Homo sapiens: one gene and its partners. The protein of the gene in region 1 purifies or fractionates together with the protein of each later gene. This does not show direct contact. Each region holds a gene or a part of one and is shown on either strand. Other genes may lie near its edges.

Region 1 (7,126 bases):
AACATTTATATAGAACAATGACACAAAAAACATTGGCTCCCGGGGCATCAATAAATGCACAGCAGCCACTAAGAGTTGGACAATTACACCAGGGTGTATGATAATAACCTAAGTTGCTATCCTAGTCACCTCATCATGTGGCTTTTTGGCATGTATTTTATTTTATCCTTTTAAATTTAATTTTAAACTAAAACTTTAGTTTTTAAAAATTTTTCTGACTTTTATTTTCCTAATTATATTAAACTCTTCTTTCAAAAGGGTGTTAACTCCTTGAGAACTATGTAAGTGTAAATTTTTATCGATCAGGTAGAGAATCATTGGCTTAATAGATGTCACAAGTCCAAATGTCTATAGATGTCAGGAAATAAATCTAAGAGTGACTGGAGGCCATTAACTTAAGTGAAACAAGCTAGATGCAGAAAGATAAATACTGCATGTTCTCACTTATAAGTGGGAGATAAATAATGTGTACACAAGGATGTGGAGTGTGGAATGATAGACAATAGAGACTCAAAAGGGTGAAGGAGTGGGAAGGTGTGGAGGAATAGAAATTACTTATTTGTTACAATGTATGTTATTTGGGTTATGGATACACTAAAAGCCCTGACTTCACCACTATGCAATCTCTGTGTGTAAAGAATCTGCACTTGTAACGCATACATTTATATAAATTAAAAAATGAGAAAAAAGAGTGATGAGAGCTTGAATGGAACAGGCAGGATGTAATGCAACAGAGAGGAGATGGCACTGAGGGAACTGGGGGTTTTGTGAGTGAATTACTGTTAAAAAGGAATGTAAATTCAGTATTGCCAGATCTTCTGTTTGTTCTTTTATTTTGAGAGAAGACAAAATTTAGATTCTCTTTACTCTTTCTTTTTCTTTCTTTCTTTCTTTCTTTCTTTCTTTCTTTCTTTCTTTCTTTCTTTCTTTCTTTCTTTCTGTCTCTCTCTCTCTCTCTCTCTCTGTGAGTGTGTGTGTGTGTGTTTAAATAAAAATCTAATTACTAAATACTGGCAACAATTCAACCATCATATAGTGTGCATTCACACACACTCACACACAATTTCAGCTGGGATATATCTTATAGACAGCCTAATCTGGGACTCAGAGAGAAAGTCTAATGTTAATAAAGAATCAACCCAAATAATGAAAATTCATGAAAGGCAGAGAAGCAAGTCCCATTTCTTTTTAGGCCAGTTCTATTCTATGCCAGGAAATGGGTCCAGTATTGGGGGCTTTGCCCATTGTTCTGGCTGTCTATTCTTGGTAACAAACCATCTCCATACAGAGTAGCTTAACGCAATGACAAATTTCTTTTGCTCACAAGTCTGAAATTTGGTGGGGACAACTCCAAAGTGGGTGGTTGGAAGAATATGAAGCCTTGTTTCCTTGAAGTTATGGCTGGCAGTTGATGTTGGCTCTTGGCAGGGACCTTGCCTGGTGCTGTGGTAGGATCATAGCCTCTCTGTGTGGCTGCTTGACTTTGTCACAGCATGGTGGCAGGTCCCAAGAGGGAACCAAGAGGCCAGGTGGCAACTGTACAGCCTTTTATGACTTAGTCTTTCACTGTGGTCACAAGCCCACTAGATTCAAGAGGGAATGTAGACTCTATCTGAACATCACGTAAGAAGACAGTCACATGGGAATTCAGCAGTGAAGCCCCAAGTCTTGGACTTTCTATGTTGGGGGAGACTTTTTATTACTGATTCAATCTCATTACTGATTGTTGGTCTATTCAGGTTTTTTAGTTCTTCTTGATTCAGTCTTGGTAGGTTGTATGAGTCAAGGAATTTATCTATTTCCTCTAGGTTTTCTAGTTTGTGAGTGTATTGTTGTTCATAATAGTCCCTGATAATCTGTTGCATTTCTTTGATATCAGTTATACTTGTCTATTTTTTCATTTTTGATTTTATGTGGGTATTCTCTTTTTTTCTTGGTTATTCTAGCAAGTTGTTTATCAAGTTTGTTAATCTTTTCAAAAAACTAACTTCCTTTTATTGATCCTTTGTATTTTTTTTGTCTCTGTTTTGTTTAGTGTTGCTCTGATCTTTATTATTTCTTTTCTCCTACTAATTTTGGGTGTGGTTTTTCTTGTTCTTCTAGTTTTTTTTAGGTGAATTATTAGATCATTTATTTGAAATCTTTCTACTTTTTGATGTAGGTGTTTGTTGCTATAAACTTTCCTGTTAGCACTGCTTTTACTGTACCCTATAGGTTTTGATATGTTATGTTTCCATTTTATTTCAGAATTTTTTTTTCCTCTTTAATTTCTTTCTTGACCCATTGGTCATTCAGGAGTATGTTGTTTAATTTTCATGTATTTGTGCAGTTTCCAAAGTTCCTCTTGTTATTGGTTTCCAGTTTTATTTCATTGTGGTCTGAGAAGATACTTGATATGATTTCGATTTTTTAAAATTTGTTGAGACTTGTTTTGTGTCCTCACATATGGGCTGTCCTAAGGAATGTTTCATGTGCTGATGAGAGGAATGTATATTCTGTAGCTGTTGGATGAAATGTTCTGTAAATGTCTGTTAGGTCCATTTAGTCTAATGTGTAATTTAAATCCAATGTTTCTTTGTTAATTTTCTGTTTAGATGACCTGTCTAATGCTGAGAGTGGGCTATTAACGTTCCTATTACTGTGTTGGAGTCTATCACTCCCTTTAGATCTAATAATAATTGCTTTATAGATCTGGGTGTTTTGGTGTTGAGTGCATATGTATTTAGAATTGTTGTATTTCTAAATATATATGCAGCTCTTGCTGAGTTGATCCCTTTATTATTACATAATGACATTCTTTGTCACTTTTTAGTGTTTTATACTTAAGGTATGTTTCACCTGATATAAGCATAGCCACTCATGCTCACTTTTGATTTTTGTTTGCATGGAAGTTCTTTTCCCATCCTTTAATTTCAGTTAGTATATGGCTTTACAGGTGAGATGAGTATGGTAAGCAGTGTATAGTCAGGTCATGTTTTTTAACCCATTCAGCCAGTCTGTATTTTTAAGTGAAAGTTTTAATTTGTTTACATTCCGGGTTATTATTGATATGTGAGAGCTTATTCTTCTTATTTTATTAACTGATTTCTAGTTGTTTTGTGTATCCTCTGTTCCTTTCTTACTCTCTTATTTTTTATTATTGTGGTTTTGTGGTTTTTCTGTAGTGGTAACCTTCTAGTCTTTTCCTTCTTTGTATGTTTGCTCTAGTAGTTTTTATATTTCATGTGTTTTAATGATATTAGATATTGTTCTTTCACTTTTGGGTGTAGGACTCCCTTGGCATTTCTTATAGATCTGGTCTAGTGGTGATAAATTCCCTCAGCTTTTGCTTGTCTGGGAAAGACTTCATTTCTCTTTCATTTTATAAAGAATAACTTTTCTGGGTATGGTATCCTTGGTTGGCAGTTTTTTTTCCTTTCAGCATCTTGAATATATCAGCCCATTCTTTCCTAGTCTATAAGGTTTCTGCTGTTAGTCTAGTCTGACAGACGTACCTTTATAAGTGACTTGATGCTTTTCTCTTGCTTTTTTGAGTTTTCTCTGTGTCTTTCACCTCTGATATTTTGACTATAATGTGCTGAGCAGAAGAACTTTTTGAATTGTATCTATATGGAGAACTTTGAGCCTCTTGTTTCTGGATATCTAAAGTTTTTTGCAAGACTTGGGAAGTTTTTATCTATTGTTTTGTTAAATAGGTTTTCTAACTCCTTCATTTTCTCTTCACCTTCTCAGATCCTAAATTCAAATACTTGGTCACTTTATGATGTTATATAGGCTTTGCTCATTCTTTTTTTATCCTTTTAATTTATTTTTGTCTGAGTTATTTCAAAATACCTCTCTTCAAGTTCTGAGATTCTTTTGCTTCATCTAGTCTGTTGTTGAAACTTTAGAATGTATTTTTTATTTAATTCAATGAATTCTTCAGTTGTAGAATTTCTGTTTGGTCTCTTTTTTTATGACATCTATCTCTTTGGTAAATTTCTCATTTATTTCCTGAATTGCTTTTCTGGTTTCTTTGCATTATTTTTCAGTATTCTGTTGTGTCTTACTGAGCTTCTTTAAAATCAATATTTTGAATTCTTTTTTGGGGGGTATTTCTTAAATTTCTTTTTGATGAGAATCTGTTGCTGGATAATTATGGTGTGCCTTTGGAGATACCATATTTCCTTATTTTTTCATGCTTCTTGTGTCCTTACATTGATCATTTGTGCATCTGATATAACAGTTGCTCCAGTTTTTTGAATTTGCTTTCATAGGGGATGACATTTCTTGAAGATTTATCTACGGTGTTGGCTGGGTAGGGCACTTTGGCCTTGACTCTAGGTGTGGGTGGTTGTATAGTCTCTGTGTAATTTTTCCAGCTGTAAACAGTGTCAGTGGTGTCTGTGATTTCCTCAGTGGTTTAGGGTGTGATTATTAGTGGAGGTTGTGGTGAAGTTTTGCTGGGAACTAGGACATTAGGTGGGCCAGTCTTTGGGCCTCAGTGGTGGCAGCAGTGGGTTGAGCATTAGCCTCTCCAGGTGCTGGGAATATCATGGTGGGTCAGGAGGATGGGCAGGTTATCATGCTTCTGGGTAGCAGGTATGCTGTGGCAATGGCAGTAGCTGTGGTGGGACAACTTTCTGGAACCCAAGTGGTCAGTGCTGGTGTTGGTGATGTCCATGATGAACTGGGCAAGCTGGTCCTCAGTCCTGCAGATGGCACATGAAAATGTATAGCTGCCTTTTTGTTGGGGTGGCAAGGTCACTTCCAGTGGCTCCTGCCTCAGCCCAACAGTGGTGTCTGTGGGTGATGAGTGTCAGTTGGGCTCCAGGGATATGGAGGTGCAGGGGCTCTTGGGCCCCCAGGCAGAACACATTCTGGCAGGGGCGGGGCTTTCATAATGGCACAGTGCTGCAGCTGCTTAGGACTTGGGGGTTTGTAGGACTCAGCATGAGCTCCCTGTCTAGAACAATGCCATTATGTGATCTCTAGGCAGTTCTCTGTGAGTCTCAGGGCCCATGAGAGTCCAGGGGCTCTCCTATGGCTAGCATTGTAGAATTCTGTGGCAGGAATGTGGACCACTTGGTGTCTCTCACTTACCCTTTCCTCACATTAAGGAGCCTCTCCGGGCTCCCAGCTGATCCCAGCTAAGCTGGCTTCCTTGCTTCCCTCTCCTTCCTTGCTTTCAGTGCTTCCCATCACTTCTCTGTTGAATTCCAGTATTCTCTCTCAGATGATCTATTCAAAATGTGATTATCTAATTGCTATTTTAGCTCCTCTCTCTGGAAAAGGTGAGTACCAGATGCATTTAGTCAGCCATCTTGAAGCTTCCTGTCTACATGCATCCTTTCTCTGTTGGCACTACTGAAATTGGGGGCAATCTTTACTTATTCTCCTTTCCTTTTCCCACCCCCTTCTCTGTCTGACACACACACACACACACTCACTCCACTCACAAGGAGTTGGAAGCAGTTGGTAATTTTTCAACTGTCCTCCTATTCTATACCCTCTCCACCCTAGAAAAAGACTTCTGAAATTCAGCAACCATATATTTTTCAGTAGCTGGCAATCATTAATTCAGGGTTAGATCCAATGAGACTACCTCCAGAGGGCAGTGTGACATTTACCTGCAGACCTGTGGAGTTAAGAAATCAGATTTTACTTAAGGCCACAGGCCCTTTAAAACTATATCCAGGGACCTGGCATATGGAAATTTGCGCTGCCCATTTTAACCTTTTTGACTCCTTCTGGAGATATTTCCGCAAAGAGGATATTAACAGGTATGATCAAGATGGGAAAGAAAAGAGAGAAATGTGGTTGTAAAGTGAAGCCTATCTCAACATAATCTATTGGATAAATTGTTCTGGAGCAGCTCATGCTTGTGGAAACATTTCCCTTGAATGCTGCCGAGGTCAGTTTCTACACCATCTTTCACAGAAGTGTCAGGGTGAGGTGGGAAGCCATCTCCTTTTGCACTGGCTTTTCAAAACCTCACTATTTTGTCTCAGTGAATCAGTTCAGCTCTCATTGCCCTGATGGATTCATGTCCTTTCCTTGTTCTTTGCCCCTTTTTGACACAGAGCAACTCCACCCCCGCCCGAATCATTTAGCAACTGTGAGTGCCCATTTGAGGCAAGTAATGCAGCCGATGAATGCTGAGTTTGTGTGAATTAGAGAAGAGAGCAACGTTGTTGAATATGCCTGTTGAATTTGCATGAAAATTGATTCACCCTTCTTATGGGGGTATAAATCGCTGGTGAATGGAGGCTGAAACATATGTTATCATTTCTTACAGCCTTGCTTGCTTGTCTCAAAAACTGAGGCCTGTGATGCGAAGTGTCTTCAGCAGCAGGGTAATTGCTGCCGGGCCACTTGCTGAGGAAGTGCTTGGAACTGATTTGAAATCACAGAAAACAGTGAGCATTCTTTGTGGTTAACGATGTGCTTCTTTTAAGCACACCCCAGCCAACGGCGACAAAGAAATGTTTGGAAAGCAAATTGAAAGGCTGTAAGGGAGAGATGAAGAGAGTGTGCAACCCTGACACAGCTCAGCTGGTGCTTTGTTAAGAGATATTTATAAGTCTTCAGATTATGCCCCCCAATTTCCAGGCAACGAAGAGACTTCTCCAAGTGTCGTGCTTTGTGCATTAGTAATAAGGACACATGCTCCACAGTAATGCTGGAACACAGGATGATGCTCTTCAGCTGTGTGCTTCTTCCTGGCGGAGCAGATGATTTCATAATTAGCCTGAGGAAACAGGCAGACCTAACAGCCAAGGAAACAATGCACCTGAATTGACAAACGAAGTTCAAGGCTTTAGGCAACCAATGGCATATTTCTAGAGTGTTGGAAGGAGAGGCAAGAGTCTACTTCAAAGAAACTGAATGGTGGTTTATTGATTTTTCATTTGTAATAGAGCCATATTAAAATAAAGTTACTGGTGAAGGGGATGAATTCATTACACATTGTCATGTTTCTGGAAGTATTTGATCCATACGTAATACAAAAAAACTGCGTATGGATGACTCACAATGCTTTTTATTGTAACTTAAAAAAAACTGGTAAAGAACTTTTAAACAGGAAAAACATTTCTCCAGGAAGCTTCTTCTAAATCTATTTCTTTTTAACTTGTTAAATTTCAGT
Region 2 (7,126 bases), on another chromosome or scaffold:
AATTTCATTAGAAATGAAATTTCATTAGAAATTAAAAATATTCATCAAGTTTAAACTAAAAGAAGCAGTAGGCTAATACACACTGAACTGGGGGTGGGGGTACACATGATTCTCTCTTAGCCACATTTTCAACCAGCTTTATGTTCTTGAAGTGTAATGACTCACTCTCAACTTGAGTGGCTCTAATTCTGTGGGATTACTAGCATGCAACCATCACTAACCCTATGAAAGCGATTGGTATAAAGTCCCATGCAAAGCATACAAACCCAATAAAAAACAGGCCATTCTTCCTTGGCAAGACACTCATCTGGGTGATGAGTCATCTAAGATGGAGGGTGACAGCAGGAAAAAATGTTAGGGTTTGCCTTCTACCCTCAAGATGGGCCTGAAGAGTATCACCCTGTAGTCGGGCACTTCATCATTTCTCAAAGGAGTCCGCATAGAACAGTGAATAGTATGAGTGACATCAACTTTCATATGCCATGCTTGCCCTGGTTTATAAGGAAACTATACACACACATTTATAAATAAGGAAATATAAGCTCTTTAGCTCTTACATATTAGCTAATATATACATTAGCGCTTATAAAAGATGACAGGACAACCCACCATAGGGATTGTTTGCAAATGCTGGGGATAAATTAGAGAAGGAACAAAATGAGGAAGTACCTTGGAAGAAGCTCATGTTTGACTGTTTTCAGATGCAACAGAGAATTTTCTGCTTCTTCAAATTTAAAAATTTCCACTGTATTCTTGAATTCTGGGTGGTTTACAACAAAGAGATAAACTGTGTCATCTAAAGAATTGAAAGAACAGAGTTAATTTACAAGACATAACTACGGGACCTCTGGGCAGGCACTGACATTTAAATACCACAGGCAAGGAAAGGTTGAATGTATAAGCTGTTAGACGACCTAACAGATCATTCTCTGTCTTTCCTATTGCTGTCCGTCTGGTGTTATTTCTGATCATTGGCTCCCTGACCTTTAAGAAAGTGTTTCCTACTCCATATACAGAATTCATGCATAATCTGTTTCTACTTTAATTCAAAAATACAGTTCTTTTTTAAATGTGATGATCGTAGGTATATGAAAAGATTATGAAATCTAAACATTCTTTCAGGTGTTACCTGTTAGGAATTTCAAAATGTAGCATAACTTACTGCCAGCTGAAGAGGCAAATGAACAAGTTCTTTGTAATGAAGAATACAGAAATCACTCATGAGTTAATTGTTCTTCTCTTCCTAGAAATATGATCCAAATCTATTTTTCACAGTCATTTGTGAACCATCACACGTTACTAAATGTTGGTAGCCCATTGGCTCTTACCGTTGTCTATGAAAGTGCTGATGCCATGTGGATTGAATGAGGCCAAATCAAACCCACGACTGATTCTTAATTCCCGTGCCCTTGGTTTTTCTTCTTTTAGATCCATCATTAGTATTCCTCCAGGCTTATCTGGTGCAAAGCTGTGGAGTCCTGGGAATTTTAGACCCTTTCCAAAACGGTGAAAAATGTTAAATACAAAAGCTTAAGTATTTTTATGGACTAACATGGGAACTGTACATGAAGGATAAATAGAGATTGTGGTTAAAGTAGTGGCATAAAGCCACAAAAACTCAAAAAACAGAGAAAAGATAACAGAAAAAATAATAACGGGGAGGTGGAATACTGAAAGCCTGAAAATAACTGAAAAGAAGATCAGGGATTTATTCTCTTCAGAGAGTAATCAGAAGGTTGGTGGACTAGGTGATTCCAGGGAGAGCTGAGGGTGGAGAAAAGTGACATCTACATACTGACTGTGGAAATTTGTTCACTGCTAGATCCCAGTGCCTGGAACAGTGCCTGGCATACAGTCCATCCTTCTCCCACTGATTCAAAATATCACCTTTATCATGTGCTAGATCTCTGACATTTACATATTGGTCTATTTAGGGACTCTCTGTTTTGTTATTTTAATGTCTCATGTCTATTCCTGTGCCAATATAACACTTTTTAAATTACTACAGCTTTAGGTCAGGCCTGGTGGCTCATGCCTATAATTCCAGCACTTTGGGAGGCTGACGTGGGAGGACTGCTTGAGGCCAGCAGTTTGAGACCAGCCTGGGCAACATAGCAAGACTCTGTCTCTACAAAAAAAAAAAAAAAAAAAAAAAAAAAAATTAGCTGAGTGTTATGGTGAGCACTTGTAGTCCTAGCTGCTCGGAAGGCTGAGGTGGAAGGACCTCTTGAGCGCAGGAGTTTAGGAGTTCAGGCTGCAGTGAGCTATGATTGCACTACTGCACATCAGCCTGGGCAATTGAGCCAGTCCCTGCTTCTCTAATGACAGTTTTGTCTTTTTCTTTTCTATCTCACATTTCTTTTTCTCGTTTTACTGAATTACTAAGAACTCTAGTAGATTACTGATGGTTGTGGTGTTGGGTATTTTCTTCCTGTTCTGAGCATTAATGCAAATGCAGCCAATGCTTCACCATCAAGAATGATGTTTGCTGTAGTTTTGTGGGAATTTTCCTTATCTTTCTAGTTTGCTTGGAACTTTAGGAATGAGTATTGAATTTTATTAAATGCTTTTTGGTACTCACTGAGATGATATAGGTCTTTTCTCTTTTAAATCAGTTAATAAATTACCTATCAGTCTATCTAAAATGGTGATTCATCATTACATTCTTAAGGTAAAGCCTTCTTGGTGATGTTAAATTTTATGTGAATGCACTACCTAATTCAGTTTACTAATACGATGCAGTCATATTTACACAAATTTAGGCACACAATAAAAAAGTCTTACTTTATGTATAAAATTGGACATAAGAGGAAATCTCTCCAATTAAAAAAGATTATCTACAATTGTATATTTTCATGGAGGGCAAGCCTGGTAAGTAGAACAAACTGGAATTATGCTATTGTTACATGGCAGTGCCACTTCAGTTAATCCCTATTCTTTATGAATGTCCCCAAAACAAAAGCATGATTTACATGCAAAGGAAGCACTATCAGATGGTGATAACTAGTCATGGTTATGTTCGCACTCCTTATTTATTTAAGTATTTTTTCTCTTTTTAAAAATTTATTTTTAATTATGATAAAATACATACAACATTCATCACTTTCACCATTTTTAAGTGTACAGTTCAGTGGTGTTAAGCACACTCACATTGTTTACATTTTTTATATTTTATTCTATGTCATCCAATTCTTCATGAAGTGTGACATTAGTTTTGAGGTGACCCTCAACCCATAACTGTAAAATAGGTTGGGTTAGATGAGCTAAAATGCTAGGAAGAAGAATGAACAACCTCCACAATGTAGGACCTCTTTATTTAGAAGAGAGTACACTCTAGGTTTTATTAGAGACAATGCCAAGTAAATGAAAAACAGCAGCAAACTGGGAATGTTTCTAAATTTTAAAAAAAGTCAAATGAGCAAAGGAGGGTAACAGAAAAAAAGCAGAAAAAGTTCTATTGATATGGCTATAAGATCTTTGTAACTATAACATGCCCCCAAGCTAAAATGGCTGTAGATTTATGTGTTTGGAGACCTCATCCCTCCTACTTCAGATTTATTACTATGGGGGCTGGAGAGAAATCTTGAAATAGGTGAATTCTAGATTATAAAAATCTCCAAGAACACATCCTTGCAAAACAACAACAAAAAACACAAATAAACAAATAAAAAAATCAATGCAACTGCCTTCTACTTTATTCAGAATGTTTGCATCTTTACTTATGAATATTTTAGACTAGTGGTCCCAGTGGTTTTTCCTAAGCCACACATGTGCAAGCATGTGCTCCTAAACAAACCCAGAGTCCTACTATAAATATCACTTTATTCATTCTGTGTAGGCAATTAAATAAAACATTCCTTTTAAAACCTTATTTTAAAAACTAAATACATATACTGGTGTTTCTGCTAAAGCCCACAGTATCTCTTTATTGCCTCAGTGGTAATAACCAGCTGCTCACTGTCTTTCACATAAAAACCATCAGGAACCTGAAGAGTGTTCTAATTCTCATTCTACTCCAACCTGAGTTCTCTCACCTTTCTCATAAGTCTAACAACTATTTTATTAGTGTGGTGACTCCCTTCTAAGTATCTCCCAGTATTTCACATCCCTCTTGAGTCTCAGAGCCTGAAAATAATGGATGTTGAGAGGAAATGGAATAATTACAGTCAGGTGTCAGAGTTGGTTACTTCTTCCTCCAGAAAAACTGGACCTATGAAGATGCCAAGAACTCCTATGTCTGCCCAAGCCAGGGAGGTAGGTGGTCAGAACCTCCTCATCTGTCCCCTTATCTGGATTTCCAATTAGAATGGACATTGTTACAAGCTAGTTTCAACAATATTCACAACAATATTCACAAGCCAATTGTTTTTAAAGTCTTTCTATTGTATACCCAGAAAGGATATTGTTTTTCAGCTTACAAGAATCAAGGCAAAATGAAGGGTGTAAATAAACTCAATGACTTTCCACTTATGATTGGCTATTCAGGGGAAAAAAGAAAGAAAGCAAAAGGGCAAGGTTGGTATAATATTTGAAAATAAATAATAATGGCAAGAATATTTGCTTCAAGTTGAATAGTAATAGAAAGATGAGTAGATGCTGTATTTAAAATAGTATAATGTTAGTATTGAGTATCCACAGTAAGACCTCAAATATCCCTCTTAATAGTGCACATTTAAAACACAGATTGCGCTGGGCGTGGTGGCTCACTCCCGTAATGCCAGCACTTTGGGAGGCTGAGGCAGGCGATCACCTGAGGTCAGGTGTTTGAGACCAGCCTGGCCAACACGGCGAAACCCCATCTCTACTAAAAATACAAAAATTAGCCGGGCATGGTGGCGGGCGCCTGTAATCCCAGCTACTCGGGAGGCTGAGGCAAAAGAATTGCTTGAACCCGGGAGGCGGAGGTTGCAGTAAGCTGAGATCATGCCACTGCACTCCAGCCGGGGCAACCAGAACAAGACTCCGTCTCAAAAAATAAAAAAAATTAAAAAAGAAAAAACAAAACAAAACACAGATTGCATTGGAATATTTTAGTGCAATGCAATGGGGAAATAAAGAACACTATCTCAATGGGCAAAGAGTCTTCATCTCTACATTTAGAAAAGCTGGAGGAAGTTTTCCAAGATCTTGTTTGACCTCTCTTTTCTTCAGAATGCATTTTGGAAAATGAATTTTAAAAGCAACTTACTGTTCTGCAGCCCTCATCAAATACCCTTGTATCTCCTCTGCTGAATTTGGGGAAGGAAGAAGACACTCACCACACTAAAAAAAGCCAGACCATTGGGAAGTATGTCAATATCTTCAGAGCCAGCTTCTGTAAGTTTAAGGAACAGATAAATGTCATGTTCAAGTTCTGTTATTTGTTACACAGAGCATAACTGGGACTCTGTTTACTTTATCAGAGTGACTGTATCTTTAGGGATGGTTCTGATGTTTTTTCCAAGGAACCATTCTTTTTAATAAATGTCAGTTTAAACCCCTTCCTGAAGTGAACTTCTGACTTTAAATGTTAGATATTTTATGTTTACTCAAATCAAAGTCAAGTTATCACCACATTTCCAGCTATAATACTGAAAAAGTTGACATCTGTACACTCTCATGATAAACATCCAGATGTCCGTATAAAAGTAATTGACATCAGGGGAATATTACTTTCTGAAGGAAGGGCTCATAGGCATTTAACCATGCAAATATCCTTGTCCTCTTCTTTGCTCATTCAATCTGAAGCAAACAGACATCTTTCTCATTAACAGAGGTAAAACACCTGGGATTATATATTCCTTCTTTTAAAAACAGTGCCTACTTGTGCTCATAAGCAAAGAAAGCTTTTCTATTTAATCTTTAAATTTAGGCTTTAAATTAGAGAAAAAAACTAGCAGAAGAAAATTAATGAAAAATACCATGCACCTAAGCCAGTTGAAGTTTCTAACTCCTGTCTCTGAGGCAGGCTACAATTACTATTGATTGTTTATTGACTGTCTGCAGTACACTCCACACAGCACAGCAAATAATTAGACATAAGACTTTCCCCAGCAGTCTCACTGTATAAATTCTACAGACAGATAATAGACCCAAACACAAGAAAAGAAGAATAAAAATGGCTTAGATTAAGCCAAACCATGACACATTCTTTGAGTCTACAAAATCCAATCTTCCTCTTTAAGACTTCTCCATAGGATTTCTTCAAGGTTATTTCTAGGTTGTCAAAACCAAACAGCATCTATCTATCCAGCCATTTTGGTCTTGCTTCATGAGTTTGCATTTAGCCAGTTGCCTCCAGTGTTGCTTGCTCCATCGTAGTGCAGAAAAACAAAACAAAATAAAAATGCCAAGAACTTCACATTGTAAAGATGACCCATCTGCCTGCTCCTCAGAAAGAAGATACACAGAAATAAGCTTAAGCATGGCATAGCGGAGGAGTTCTCAATCTGGGGTCTGTGGATCACTTTTGGGCTTCAAAGTATCTGTGAACCCTCGGAAATTCTATGCAATGCAAAATGTCTCATGTATGCACAGATGAGAACGTTTCTGTAAAAACGGTCCTTGATTTTCATCAGATTCAAAAAAGAGACTGTGATTCCCCCAAAAAGGTTAAGAATGACTAGACTCTAGTTCCACGGTGGTTGTCCACTGGTAATAAGTTAAGAATCAGGGGAACGCTACACCACATACACATGTATACACAGCACATACACATGTACACACAGACACACACACACACACACACACACACACACACACACCGAGAGAGAATTCTAGTCCAGGTTTTGCTTTTCAGTCCTATTTAGTAGAAGCTCAATTAATTAAAATTTGTTTTTCCTGAAAATTATTTTAGAAAATTTAATTTCCAAGTATACACGTGGAAAAAGAAGATATATAGAAAAAATTAACAATGCTTCTTTGATAGGATTATGAATGATTTTTATTTTTTTCTTTATACTTTGTTTAAAATTTTCTACAAAATTGTATATTTTTTAATAATTAAGGAAAGAGAAATCTTTTTTTAAAAAAATACATTTATTTCAACCATATTGTAACTTCTGTTTAACTCCATTGCCTAATTCCAATGGAAAAAATGTATCTATCTGTAGCCTTCTTTGGAATATTTTCCAGATCTTCTCCCCGT
Region 3 (3,038 bases), on another chromosome or scaffold:
GACCAGGCCCAGGGGCGAGAGACGGTAGTCCAGGCTTTTCTTTGGAGAGGCTTTGCACAGCTCCCAGCCTCTGCTGGCCTCGGATGGCCCTCCCGCGGCACCTGTGCCGATGGACAGGGTCCTGGGTGCCCGTAGGTTATGGAGCCGGCCCCCTCCTTGGGTCCAGAGCCCCTGGGGATGGCGCCTCATTTTGACCCTGCCCCCGTGGCCTGCGGGTGCTGGGTGTCCTGGCCCCTGCCAGGGTCCTCCTCTGGGTCCCTGTCTCCGCCTCACCTCTGCCTCCCTTCTCCTGTAGAAAGTCCTACCTCCATCTCCGTGGGCCCCAGCACCAGCCGACGGCCCGCAGCCTCCCAAAGACTCTGCCACGCCACTCTCCCCGCAGCCGCCCAGCGAAGAACCAGCCACATCCCCCTGGCCTGCTGAGCAGTCCCCAAAATCACGCACGTCCGAGGAGATGGGGGCTGGAGCCCCCATGCGGGAGCCTGGGAGCCCAGCTGAATCCGAGGGCCGGGACCAGGCCCAGCCGTCCCCGGTAACCCAGCCTGGCGCCTCGGCCTAGGGGAGGGGTGAGACGCTCGCTGCCGTGCCCGCCACACCAAGATGTTGGGGCTGCCTGGCGCCCACTGGAGACAGACAGACAGACGCCTGTCCCCCGGGACCGAGGCCTGTGCCGTCCCCACCCGCCCCAACATGGTGCTCATCCTTGCCGAGACCCCTGCGGTCTGTGCCCGCGCCCAGCCCAGCTGCCCCGGCTGCACGCCTGCTGCTCCCAGCTCGCCCGGCTGCCACAAGCTCTCTGCGGGTCCATCCTCCCCACCGGGGTCCGTCCTCGCAGGCCCTGCCCGGCCTCTCTGCAGACCCTCAAGCGTCGTCTGCATGAGTGAGCAGGCGTGGGTGGACTCTGGCCGCGGCCACACTTGGTGCTCACCAGCTGCTTCGGCCTTCAGGTGACCTCCCTCCCCACGGCATCCTGCTCTCCGGGTGGAAGAGCAGCTTTCTGTCTCCCAGAAGGCATCGCTTTTCCCTCTTGAGCAGATCGGAGCCCCTGGGAGGTTTGGAAGCTGCCTCCAAGCCTAGGACACGGACCAGTGGCCGGGGCGGCCTCTGGCCCCTGACGCTGGCTGAGACAGGCCCGTGGGGCGGGGTTTTGGGGCGTGAACAAGGCTGGCAGTAAGTGGACAAGCTGCTCCCCTGGCTAAGGCCCTGCCCTGCCCTCAGCCAGAGGTGCCTGGCCATGCCTGCACACTCCTCCCCATTTTAATAAATGGTCGCAACTTCTAGAAGTCCTGCTGGTGCCACCTGGTGGGGTGGACGTCTCTCAGACTGCCCTTCTGACAAGCAGGGGTGGGCGCCAGGCAGGCTGGGTCAGGCCCTCAGGGGTCCCTGGAGCCCTGGGAGGGAGGGACTGGGTCGTGGGAGGTCCTGGTAGCTCCCGGCACCCAACCTCGCTTCCCGTGTGGGCCCCGTGTTGCTTTTCTGCTGAGAGGGGCTTGGGCCTCGGTTCTCCCTGTGGCAGCGGCATTGGTGCCTGGGTTCTTAACCCTCTGGACCCAGCAGCTAGGAGCTTCTGGAACCCACGAGGACATCTGCCACTGGCATGGTCTACTCACTGATGGGGTCCTCCTGACTCCAGGGCAGAGACGTCCGTGCGGGAACTGACCGAGGCGTGGCCCCAGGCCCCGGCATCCTCCCCTCGCTGCACGTGGTCACTTCCGAAGCAGCGCTCCCTGTGGCCGCAGAGACAGAGCCCGCACCCTGGCTGTCTGTGGTGCCTGGGCCCCAGCTCCCGCCCGCCACCCGCCCTGTTGAGTGCGGCCTCCAGACTCGAGTCCAGAATCTGTTTCTGTCAAGTCAGTCGTCCCCAGCTGCACACGGGGACTGCTGAGCGCTGCGCTCTCACGGGTCTGTTCCGGACAGAGGGTGGCAGGGGTGAGCCCTGATCCCTTACAAAAAATACCAGCTTCCCAGGGAGTAATGGCGCCTTCACTGAAGCCATTTTGTACATGGGGACGGGGTGGGGACGTCTCTTTTTTGGTGTTGGACGTTTGACCAGTGGGGAGGGGTTCAGAGGCGGCGGTCCTGTCCTTGGCTCCGTCTGTCCGTGTGGCCTTGCTGCCATTCCGTCTGATCATTAAACACAGCTTTTGATACATATGGCCCGGCCTCTGCCTCCGCAGTGCACGGCTTGGGGCATCTGCTCTGTGCAGGTCCCGGTGAGCAGAACTGAGAGCTGGCAGGCCGCCTGGCTGTCCTGCAGAGGACGGATTGGAATTGCCACCGCAGGGCCGGCCAGTGCTGTGAGGTGCCCAGCGTCACTCCCATGGGCTCTGTGGGCCATGTGGTCCCTGTCACGCTTCTCAGCTCTGCCACTGTTGCTGGAAAGCATCACAGACCATGTGTAAAATGGGCCAAAATACCTTTTACAAAATTAAAATAGAGATGGGGTCTTGCAGTGTTGCTGAGGCTGATCTCGAACTGCTGAGCTCAGACAATCCTCCTGTCTCGGCCTCCCAAAGCGCTGCAATTACAGGCACGAGCCACCACGCCCATCCCTCAAGTAATTTTCTCGCCAGACCCTGAAATTGGAATTGTATAGCATCCTCACGTCTCAAAAGAGTTTATTATTATTTTTTTCTCTTTAAAAATGCAAAGACCTGTCTTAGCCGCTTTGGGACAAGGTTTGGTTTCCAGCTGCTGCTGGCTGGCGCTGGGCCTGTGGGCACGTGGGTGATGGATGCGGGTTTGTGTGCGGGCCGAGAGGCCAGTGAGTCCTGAGCATCTGCCAGGCATCAGGGGCTGCTGTGTGTGTTGTTCTAGTCTCACAAAGTTCTCCGCTACGTTAGAGAAAGTGAGACCCAGGCTGGGCATGGTGGCTCACGCCTGTAACCCCAGTGCTTTGGGAGGCTGAGGTGGGAGGATTGCTTGAGCCTGGGAGTTTAAGACCAGCCTGGGCAACGTAGCAAGACCCCATTTCTACACAAATTACCTGGGTGTGGTGGCACACACCTGTAGTCCCAGCTGTTCAGGAGGCTGGGGTG

Evidence for each region.
Region 2: the proteins of MOXD1 (region 1) and PON2 purify together in Homo sapiens (affinity purification with mass spectrometry; 2 studies listed by BioGRID and IntAct, with this or other methods). This does not show direct contact.
Region 3: the proteins of MOXD1 (region 1) and SPPL2B purify together in Homo sapiens (affinity purification with mass spectrometry; 2 studies listed by BioGRID and IntAct, with this or other methods). This does not show direct contact.

The regions. Positions count from the first base shown.
Region 1 is NC_000006.12:132,391,451-132,398,576, reverse strand, and holds part of MOXD1 (DBH-like monooxygenase protein 1 precursor), read left to right. Parts: intron 1-6,317; exon of another isoform or gene 6,318-6,867; coding exon of another isoform or gene 6,868-6,870; intron 6,871-7,126.
Region 2 is NC_000007.14:95,410,984-95,418,109, forward strand, and holds part of PON2 (serum paraoxonase/arylesterase 2), read right to left. Parts: intron 5,315-7,126; coding exon 5,259-5,314; exon of another isoform or gene 5,206-5,258; coding exon of another isoform or gene 5,189-5,205; intron 1,495-5,188; coding exon 1,329-1,494; intron 797-1,328; coding exon 670-796; intron 1-669. UniProt on the Homo sapiens protein: Capable of hydrolyzing lactones and a number of aromatic carboxylic acid esters. Has antioxidant activity. Is not associated with high density lipoprotein.
Region 3 is NC_000019.10:2,352,651-2,355,688, forward strand, and holds the end of SPPL2B (signal peptide peptidase-like 2B isoform 2 precursor), read left to right. Parts: intron 1-295; coding exon 296-559; 3' UTR 560-2,445; downstream 2,446-3,038. UniProt on the Homo sapiens protein: Intramembrane-cleaving aspartic protease (I-CLiP) that cleaves type II membrane signal peptides in the hydrophobic plane of the membrane. Functions in ITM2B and TNF processing.